3 linked regions of the Homo sapiens genome follow. The protein of the gene in region 3 purifies or fractionates together with the protein of the main gene of each other region. This does not show direct contact. Each region holds a gene or a part of one and is shown on either strand. Other genes may lie near its edges. The genes, in order: CSNK1G3, EEPD1 and GJB7.

The links.
Region 1: the proteins of GJB7 (region 3) and CSNK1G3 purify together in Homo sapiens (affinity purification with mass spectrometry; 2 studies listed by BioGRID and IntAct, with this or other methods). This does not show direct contact.
Region 2: the proteins of GJB7 (region 3) and EEPD1 purify together in Homo sapiens (affinity purification with mass spectrometry; 2 studies listed by BioGRID and IntAct, with this or other methods). This does not show direct contact.

Annotation. Positions count from the first base shown.
Region 1 is NC_000005.10:123,615,363-123,617,710, forward strand, and holds the end of CSNK1G3 (casein kinase I isoform gamma-3), read left to right. Parts: 3' UTR 1-1,687; downstream 1,688-2,348. UniProt on the Homo sapiens protein: Serine/threonine-protein kinase. Casein kinases are operationally defined by their preferential utilization of acidic proteins such as caseins as substrates. It can phosphorylate a large number of proteins. Participates in Wnt signaling.
Region 2 is NC_000007.14:36,156,181-36,159,841, forward strand, and holds part of EEPD1 (endonuclease/exonuclease/phosphatase family domain-containing protein 1), read left to right. Parts: intron 1-3,661.
Region 3 is NC_000006.12:87,287,706-87,291,366, reverse strand, and holds part of GJB7 (gap junction beta-7 protein), read left to right. Parts: intron 1-3,661.

The sequences.
Region 1 (2,348 bases), on a different chromosome or scaffold from region 3:
GCCATGCAATGGTGTCTGTGTAATTATTTTGCTCTTTGATTAAAAAAAAGACCCCCAGCAATAAAAAGTGGGTCACTCTATGCCCTCTGTGCACATTAGTCTCTTGTATTCAACTTTGCTGATTCTCTGGAATTTTCCTACTCTTTAGCATAATTTTGATGATTGAAAAATATTTTGGAAAGGATGGGTCAGGTGCTTTGCCTCCATAGTCTTTTGAAGTGCCTGCATATGAACAACAACAACAACAACAAAAAATTCTGTAAAAAAGGAAGCCCATTCCACTTTTCAAGTATGCTTTGTTTTAAGCCATAAAGACACACATGTAGTTTTGTCACATTCTACTAGCCAAAATTTTCAAGAAGGGTTAAAACAAAGACTGGCTAGAAAGATAATTATTTTGAATAAATCTCATATTCATCTTTCATTTATATAATTGTTACTTATTCCTCCCATGCAGTCTCTTCGTTGTCTTTAAGTGTGTGCCTCCAGGCATGCTTATTTATTTTTATTGTCTCAAGGTAACATTTAAGATGTATATTAAAGTAAAGCTACATTTTTTTACTTCATTATTGCATTTACAGGGATTTAATTGTACTTTGTAATTTATTTTTCTTATTAGCCAAAAGTTTAATGCATTTTTTTTTGATGAATTAGGCACCCACATGAACACCACAAATCAGGACATTGTTTATCATTGTTGCTATGAATCCTATGAATGATCTTTTTTTTATTTTAAAGACCTACACTTAACCTACAAAACATTTGCTGTATAATTTGGTCAACAGTTTCTATCTATCTGTATACTGTCATGATGTCTTAAACTGCAGGAGTTACATACTGAGTTTATATTTTTATTTGCTTTGAGCAAGGTAGATAAACATTTTGGCCATTATAATGTGAAACCACTTCTTCTTTCTTTACAGTATTTGACCAAACTTGTGTGTCTATGATATTTGTAAATACATGCGAATATCTGTATTTCTTATCATAAGCCTATTTAGTTTTATTCTCAGTAGGGTTTTTTGGATTGTACAGTGTTTATATGATCTGAACTCCTTATACATAAGAAGGTGTGTATATTAATCCAATTATGGACTTAAAATATTTTAAAAGTATAAATACCCTTATTTGCTGCAAAGACCAGTGTGTAGGCATTTGCTTTTTAGCAATATTTTTAAGTGCTCCATTTTAATGCCGAGGAATAAGTCTTTTGGCAACACAAACTGGTCAATAATAGGTAATGCAGGTATGTTCAGGTTAAGCCAACAATGTTTTGCATTTTTATGCTTATTTTCTGTCAACACTAATGAAGTCAACATTGCCTGAATGTCTGAATAATGAAACACATCCCTGTTTAAAAGTATGTAACTGAAAAAGAAATAAAAAAAAATAAAAGTAGTTTTTTTAAACTTGCTCTTTCCCATTTCCTCTAAAGATGGGTAAAATAATGTCACTCCCTAATTTAAGATAGGAATTATAAAAATTTGGTTTATTTAGTCTGTTATATATGAGAAGCAGAGCTAAAGGAATATGCTTTTGTTATTTTATGTTTTGTTTTGCTTTCTTGAAATCCAGTGGTAAAAAGCACACACTAGGAAGGATCTAAGCTTTCTTTAATATAAAAAAAATTATACTTCTCTGAACTGTTTAATAGAGCAATAATTAAATACATCTTCTGATAAATTAAGGGAAATAGCATCATTTTTCCTTTTTGAGAATGGAATCATACTATTATGTTCACAGAAATTAAGCATTATTCCAGTTTTAAGTGAATGACTTTAAAATCATTGTAGATGGGGAGCCCATATTTCTAACAGTATCTCATAGTTCATCATTGTGCTAGGTGCTTTAAGGGATTTTACAAAATGGCATTAATGGTACGCTACTTACTGAGGGATGCTACAGGTAAGAAAAGGCAAAGCAGCCCTCTCTCACCCTGTGAATATTGTGTCCATTAAGCAGCAGAGACCTTCAGAAGCAGGAGAAAGATCTGGAGATGACACAAAACTGTTAAAGGCTCTATTTAGAAAAATTCGACTTTAAGATTGGGATTTCAGTCTGAATGAATGTATAGTTGCATTAGTCAGAACTCTTTGAATTGAAAGTGACAGAATTTAACCTGGCTTGAGCAATAAGAGTGTACATTATTTCATTTAACTGAAAAGTTCAGTGGTAGGACTGCCTTCAGACATGCTTAATCCTGGAGTTAAGACAGGAATCTTCTCCATATCTTTTGGTTTTGCTTTCCTACCCTGCTGTTTTCACTGTCAGGAAGACTTTCCATGTGTCATGGTAAAGTGGTCATCCAGCAGCTTGAGACTTCTACCCTACCATCTTAGTAGTCTCAG
Region 2 (3,661 bases), on a different chromosome or scaffold from region 3:
GGGGGGGCAGCAGTTTGGTGACACGAAGTGAACTCTCAGCGGGAAATCACAGTGCATGATGGCAGATCACCAGGAAAATTAGTGAGGAGAAAAGCAGGTCACAACGTTTCCTTGGCACTGACCCAGTGGCATGCTCTCATCACTGAGAGAGGGACTCCACACTGGGTCAGGGAACTGGACTGGGGAGCCCTTGAATGCTCTCCCTGCACTGCTGTGTCCTCTCTTTTGCAGCCTAACTCACTCCTTCTGCAAAGTCTTCTTGTGCACAGGTGAGAGCTGTACTCGGCACCGGGAGATATTTATAAAGAATGGCTTGATAATTGTTCTCTTTATCCATAGCAGCATGGGCGTGTGAATGGGAAATGAGGAGGGGAGAGGCAGGAAAGACAAAGCTGCTTAATTCCTATTATGCTTTCTAGTGGCTCAATTTGGGAGGGGGGTGATGGATTAGGATCAAAAGTTGGTCCAGTGGGACTGACCAACCAGGCAGCCCCTGCCTATTTATTATGTCAGTGGTTTCTAAAGTGTGGTCCCCCCTGGGGACCAGCAACATCAGCTACTGACTCAGAAACTTTGTTTCTGTGTTTTAACACACCCTCCAGGTGGTTCTGATGCACACTAAAGTTTGAGAACCATTGTACTAGGTGTTAGGCAATCAGCTGTCCCTCTGTCTCTTGGAAGCCCCTTCCTCTGGCAGGGTTAGTGAATTCATGCAGAACTTTCCAGGTCTAGTCGGCCCTCCATACCTGTGGGTTCCACATCCATGGATTCAACCAACTGTAGATGGAAAATATTCAGGAAAAAAAAAAGTTGTGTCTATACTGAACATGTCGAGTTTTTTCTTGTCATTCCCTAAACAATCCAGTATGGTAACTATTTACATAACATTTACATTGTATTAGGCATTCTAAGTAATCTAAAGATGAATTAAAATATACTGGAGGATGTGCATAGGTTATATGTAAATAATATGCCATTTTATATCAGGGACTTGAGCATCATGGATTTTGGTATCACAGGGGCTCCTGGAATCAATCTCTGCAGATACCAAGGTACAACTGTCATTTTTATTTTCCCCTTTGATTGTTTTGATCATCCTTATAATTATTCAACCTTGTGATATTCTTTCTGACCAAGCGTTGAGGAGCTTATTCATCTTCTAGGACCTATGAATGTGAAGGGTAGAGAATAGGAGAGTGAGCAAAGACGGCTGGCCTCAGCGCTGGCTCCACCCTGCAGCCCACTGAGCAGGAGACCTCACGACTCTTGTCCAGTGTGAAGGTTGTCCTGTTTTTTTCTTCTTTGGGTTTCCTAGAGAGATGATGATTTGCTGAAGACATTGAACTACTGTCGTCAGGCAAGAGTACAGGAAAAGTTTACCCAAACCCACCAGGGTGTAGAAGGGATCACCTGTAAGTGACTGGGAAGGTGACCCGCACCGTCACATTCTCACTCTTGGCCAAATGTGTTGGAGGTTGATGGTTCTCTTTGCCTGGTCACAATGGATTCAGTATTCCAGACACTCCTAGCACATTGTTAATGTTTAGTAAACATGAACTAATGGACTCAGGGCCTGATCCCCTTCAGAGTAGGGTGAGTGCTTTGTCTGTATGACTGTCCTAGGGTATCAAAAGCTGTCACAGAGTAGATCTCGTGTCCTCAATGATAGCAGCACCCATTCTCCAAGAGCTGTGTGTTCGTCCTGATTCACAGAAATCTCTCCCCTTCCAATTGTTCCCGTATTAGTAAGAGGAAATACATTTAGTATGAGCAAGAATGGGTGCAGGTGATTTCTGGGTGGCTCTTATTTACATCCATGTGTACCTGTAATAAAAGAGTTTCCTAACTTTTGGGTATGCCTTCGTGCTTTCTAACAGCTTTCCCATTTACTTGATTTTCCTAGTAAGTCTGGGATGTAGGTAACACTGACTTTTATTAATGATTCTTCATCTCTGGGTAAGGAAACTAAAATCAAGTAAGTTAGATGACATGACTCTATCAGGCAGCTCCTTAGTGACTCAGCTGGGACTGCGACCCAGACCTTCTCACTTTAGACCTATGCCCTTTGCAAGCATGCTGTGTTTTGTAAGCACGACACCTTTAACCTGCCTCTTGGTTAGACACCCATCCTCTCCCTCATCAGGCGCACTTGCTAAATTGTGAGCCAGTCACAGTGTCTTAAATTAAATCCATTGTAAAGGGATTTTAAAGATACCCTTAGGCAGTTCCTTTGCAAAGGGAATAGCTGGCTGTGAATTTGCTTTAGTAGGTGTGTTTTCTTAGGCTGAAGGGTAGCTGTATGGGATGGGAGTTAGAGTCTTCTCTTTAACCTTCTTACAGCATGTGTGAGCTATAAGAAACTGTTTTGCAAGTGAGGCGTGAGGTAGGACAGCATTATTTGATAATCATACAGTCACCAGGAGCCTTCAGGGATGCCATGCTGGTAGCACAGAACTGACAGGTTTCATTAGATTATTTTGCCAAATCTCAGTCTTAGGCAATACTCTTCCTTGTTCGGTATTTATGGAACAAGATTAAAGGGGAATGTTCCTGCTAAATATGCTTGCAAAATTTGGAGGTAGTCCACATCTGGAATGAAAATTGGTTAATATTTCATTTTTACTTATTTATTTTTTGCTGGGAAGTCATTCTGTTTTGAGAGTCTCTTTGGTTATTGAAAGTATAAACCCTAAGGGAGCTGAAAGATAATCTCCAAAAGAAATAAGAAGATTTAACATCCCACTTGCTCATTTTCCCTGTGGCCTACATAAGAAGAGAACTTGAGTGTCAAAGTCTTTAGCCCTGTAATGGCTTAAATCAATTTTTTTGCCACATGTCTGTGATATCAAAGCACAAGGTGGATTAATGCCTAGCAACAAGCACTGATAGTGAAAAAAGATTTTACTTTATTAGACTTGATTAGTAGGATCAATATAAACATATCCCATCTTGTCATTTGATTCATTCATTGAAAAATATGTATTGAATGTCTGCTGTGTGCATATATAAGCTAATTTCAGGGATCAGCTTCGCCCTGTTACTTACCAAACTTAAGTCAATGTAGATTAGTTTGTGTGGCCCAGCCTCAAAACAGTCTAGTAAACCTAGAGTTTTGGGGCAGGTCAAAAGGAGTGATTGATACATGGTTGTATTTTTCTCATATGAACAATAGGCTCACCCTGGGAGGTTGAAGGGTGGGTGGATGCAGCCAGACGTAACATCTGGGGACAGAATGCCCATCAATCCTCTTAAAGTAGAAATTGTGAAATCCATTTTGACACTTTTGGAAACTGAGGCTCTGAGAGGTTAAATAGCATCTGTGTGGCCTTCAGAAATGTAGATATTGGAGTCAGGATTTGAAGTTTGTCTACTTTCAAAGCGGAGGGATTAGGCCAGATTAGGCGTGTCTTTTCCCAAACTCCATGCCCTTCTGCTGCCTCTGACTCCCAGCCCACCCACATTTCCTCCCTGCCTTTGGCTGGCCAGGTATCAGGGTCTTGGGGAAAAGGAGGGCTTCCCTACAACCCTGAGATTGTGTCAGGCCTCTGGGGGCCTCTGTTTTTTCCCGTTTTTGTTCCTCTAAAGGATGGGGCTTGAGGCCAGAGGTAGAGCCAATCCAAAAGGCGTCAGGGCTCCTCCACCCAGCCCCTCAAGTGTGAGT
Region 3 (3,661 bases):
CTCAGTATTTCATGGATTCCTAGTGTCGAAGTGTTTTTTATATTATTTTTTTAATATACAATTATTTACATGTATCAAACCTAAAACTACTTGTAGATTTATGGCTCTTATGCATCTATATTTACAAAATAAAAATTGAACATTACAAAACGAGTACAATTAAAATAATTAAAGTTTAACAGACAAAAGACATCATGTTGCTGAAACTAAATCACTGCTCATTGAGAGAACCAGCTACTGACTATAGAAGCCTGATTCTTTGAAGCTAGGCTCACTTGTTCTGTGGGCCAGGTAATGGCTTGTTTGTCGTCTACCACTCGTCTCCAATCAAACTACTAGCAGGCTTCATTCCTGCTGTACATCTACCCATCGTGGCTTCATTTATTTGGCTTTCTCTTGAGCATACCCGTTATGTGTTGTTTCTCATAGGCTAAAATAATTAAAGTTCTGGTACTTGGTTCCATTATGATTTTAAGTACTATGTAAATGTTTTGTGCAAAGGGCGAGATAGTAAATATTTTAGGTTTTGAGGGCCATACTGTCTCTGTCGCAACTACTCCACACTGCAGTTCTAGCATGAAAGCAGCCATCGACAACAGTAAACATTTAGGCGTGGCTGAGTCTCAAAAAGTGTTATTTACAAAACAGGTGGTGGACTGGATTGGGCCTGAGTGCTGTGTAGTTTGCAGAATGCTCATAAATATGAGTGCAGAAATGCTGAAATCCTCTGGCAGTCCTTAAATATGAGCTGGTCATTCAGCTTTTTTGCTTTTCTGTTTGTTTTTTAAAAGCTTAGGAATATGAACGTACATATAAACTTCTTGTAGACACTTAAGAATATAACAACAAACCCTCAGTGGGCCACAGATCCTGGGTTTGGGAAACACTGTTTTAGGGATTTTCCAAATAGGCCATCTTCAAAAATAAAAATGCCTCATTCAGATGGGGAATGAGAGTTTGCTAGTGTCAGCAGGCACAACAGGACTCAGAGATGGAAAGATGCCCCTGGGAGGAAATGCTTTTCTTCAGGGGTTAGATGATTTGTGTGCAAGGCAGAACAGAGTTATGAATGTACCAGAGAATCCAGCACTCAGGGGAGAGTAGAAACTAGCCAGGCAGAACTTGGGTTCTTCTACTGCTGGATTTGCTACTGACTTATTGGGAGTGTTGGATGAGTATCCCACCTCTTTGAGTTTTTCAGTTCTTCCATCACTAAAATGAAGGTTGTACCATACATCCTGCTTACTACTGAGGATGGAGGTAAGCATTGGATGAGATGCTGTGAAATGCTGCATAAATGGTCAAGTGCCCAAGGATGAGCATTTTGTTACTAAGAGGTGAAAGGAGCTGTGTATGAAGGCTGAAGGATTTTTCAGGGAGTGTCGCTGGCAGTCTGCAAGGCAATTGGAAATCCAGTGCTCCTCGAACACAAGTTTCAAACCAGCACTTTTGGGGAATGACGAAGCAGCTCTCTGGCTCCCAGCAGTGCAAGGGCTTTTTGGACAGTATTTATGCAGGTAGCCTTGCCTGTCTTCCTCCCAGAGGCCAGCTTGACATTGCCTGAACCTCGCAGGAAGTTAAAGCCTCCAGTGTTGGGCAAGAAGTTGCTGGTGTGGCAAAGCTCATCCTGCAATAAGAGAAGAACAAGTGGGCTGCTCAACAGGGGTTTCAACAGTGTCACCACAGTCAGAACTGGCACTCATTTCCAAAAGTTCAGAAAGTCAGGCACATTGTTTACTCAATCTATTCTAAGGGATTCATCCACATGAGCCAAGCCCAGAGACCTGATCTATAAAATGCATCTCCAGGAACTGGAACTCTTGTATCTAATTTCAGGAGGACTTCCTTGCACAGCATAAACAATTTCAGCATGAAAAAAATTATTACTCAGAAGCTTGCTTGGTAAATTGGCGTAATGAGAATCAATTGTTATGTGTAGTATCTGAAATTCAAAATTTCCTGTGCATTCTACATTTTTGCTTCATCTGGCAACTCTAGTTCCTTCTCTTAAAGAACATGTGGTCTGTACAGATATTAATCACGAAAACAAGTATATGATTACAACTTATAAGTGGCATGAGGGAAAAAAAGCCAACATAATGAACAAGAATACCAAGGAAGACCTAATTTAGATTAGTGGGGTCAGGGAAAGCCACTCTGATTCAGGTTAAGGGGACCAGAGTATTGCAGGAAGGAGGAACAGAATGGATGTAGTGTCTAAAGGAGAAACTGAAGGAAGGAAAGCATGTCTGGAATCCAGTATCCTTTGGAGATGTGCAAGACAAGGTTGGAGATGCAGGCATGGGCACCACTACACAGGCTATTGTTGTCCAGATAAGTGTTTGGCCTTTTTTCCCCTACCCTCAATGCAACAGAAAACCATGGTAGGGCAGAGAAATGAGAATATACAGTCTCCATTTTAAAAGTTAATCTGAATGGATAATGGGTTGGAGAGGGCAAGAATGAGAAACAGAGTGACAGATAGGAAGCTATTATGGTGTTCCAGGCAGGAGATGAAGGTGGCATGGATTAGAGTGGTGGAAGCGCAGATGAAAAGAGTGAAAAGTTTTGGTATGTATTTCAAAGGTAAAAACTTTGGCCTTGAATGTAGATTGGATGTGGGGTTTGAGGCAAAGAGAAGGATGAAGAATGACTTCCAAGTTTCTGGCTTCAACACTTGGGCGGATGGTGGTGCAGTTTACTGAAGCAGAGAACACTGAGAAGGATCAGTGCTTTGGATGGTGCTTCATAAAGTGAAGAAAGTACTGGCAAGATTTCACTTTTGAATATTTTAAGTTTATGAGATGACATCCTATTGGAGATGATAAGAAGGCAGCTGAAAGTCAGAGATGAGAGGTCCACACTGGAGATACATAATTTGGGAGTCATTGACATATATGTAGAGGCAAGAAAGATTTAAAAGGATTCACTATATGATTTTCCGACATGGTAACCTTCCAGATGTCCGTTAATTGGCTTGCTTTGTAAACATTATTCTATAAACAGCTTTCTCCAATTGTTACAAGAACCAAATATATACATATGAAAGAGTGATAGGTCTCTGATTTCATAGTGTTTATTAGGTTTATTTTTTTCAGATTTAATTTTGTATATTCTTATTGTAAAGAATAAGAATGCCATTGTCTTTCCATCCTTTGAAAATAGGGGCCAGGCACGGTGGCTCATGCCTGTAATCCCAGCACTTCGGGAGGCTGAGGTGGGCGGATCGCAAGGTCAGGAATTCGAGACCAGCCTAGTCAATATGGTGAAACTCCGTCTCTACTAGAAATACAAAAATTAGCCAGCCGTGGTGGTGGGCACCTGCAATCCCAGCTACTTGGGAGGCTGAGGCAGGAGAATCGCTTGAACCCGGGAGGCGGAGGTTGTAGTGAGCTGAAATTGCACCACTGCACTCTAGCCTGGGCAACAGAGCAACACTCCATCTGAAAAAAAATTTTTTTAAAAAAATAGGATGGACATTTATAAAATAAAAGTCATAATTATGACATTTGATGCCATCATCCTCTGATTATATTCAAAGATCAGTCACTTTTTTTTTGTTGCCTTTCTTTTAGCAACACAGTCTCTTACCTTCCTCCTACCTCTAAAATGCCCAACAAGGTACTTTCAAATGTTTAGTAAGATTACATAAATATCCTCT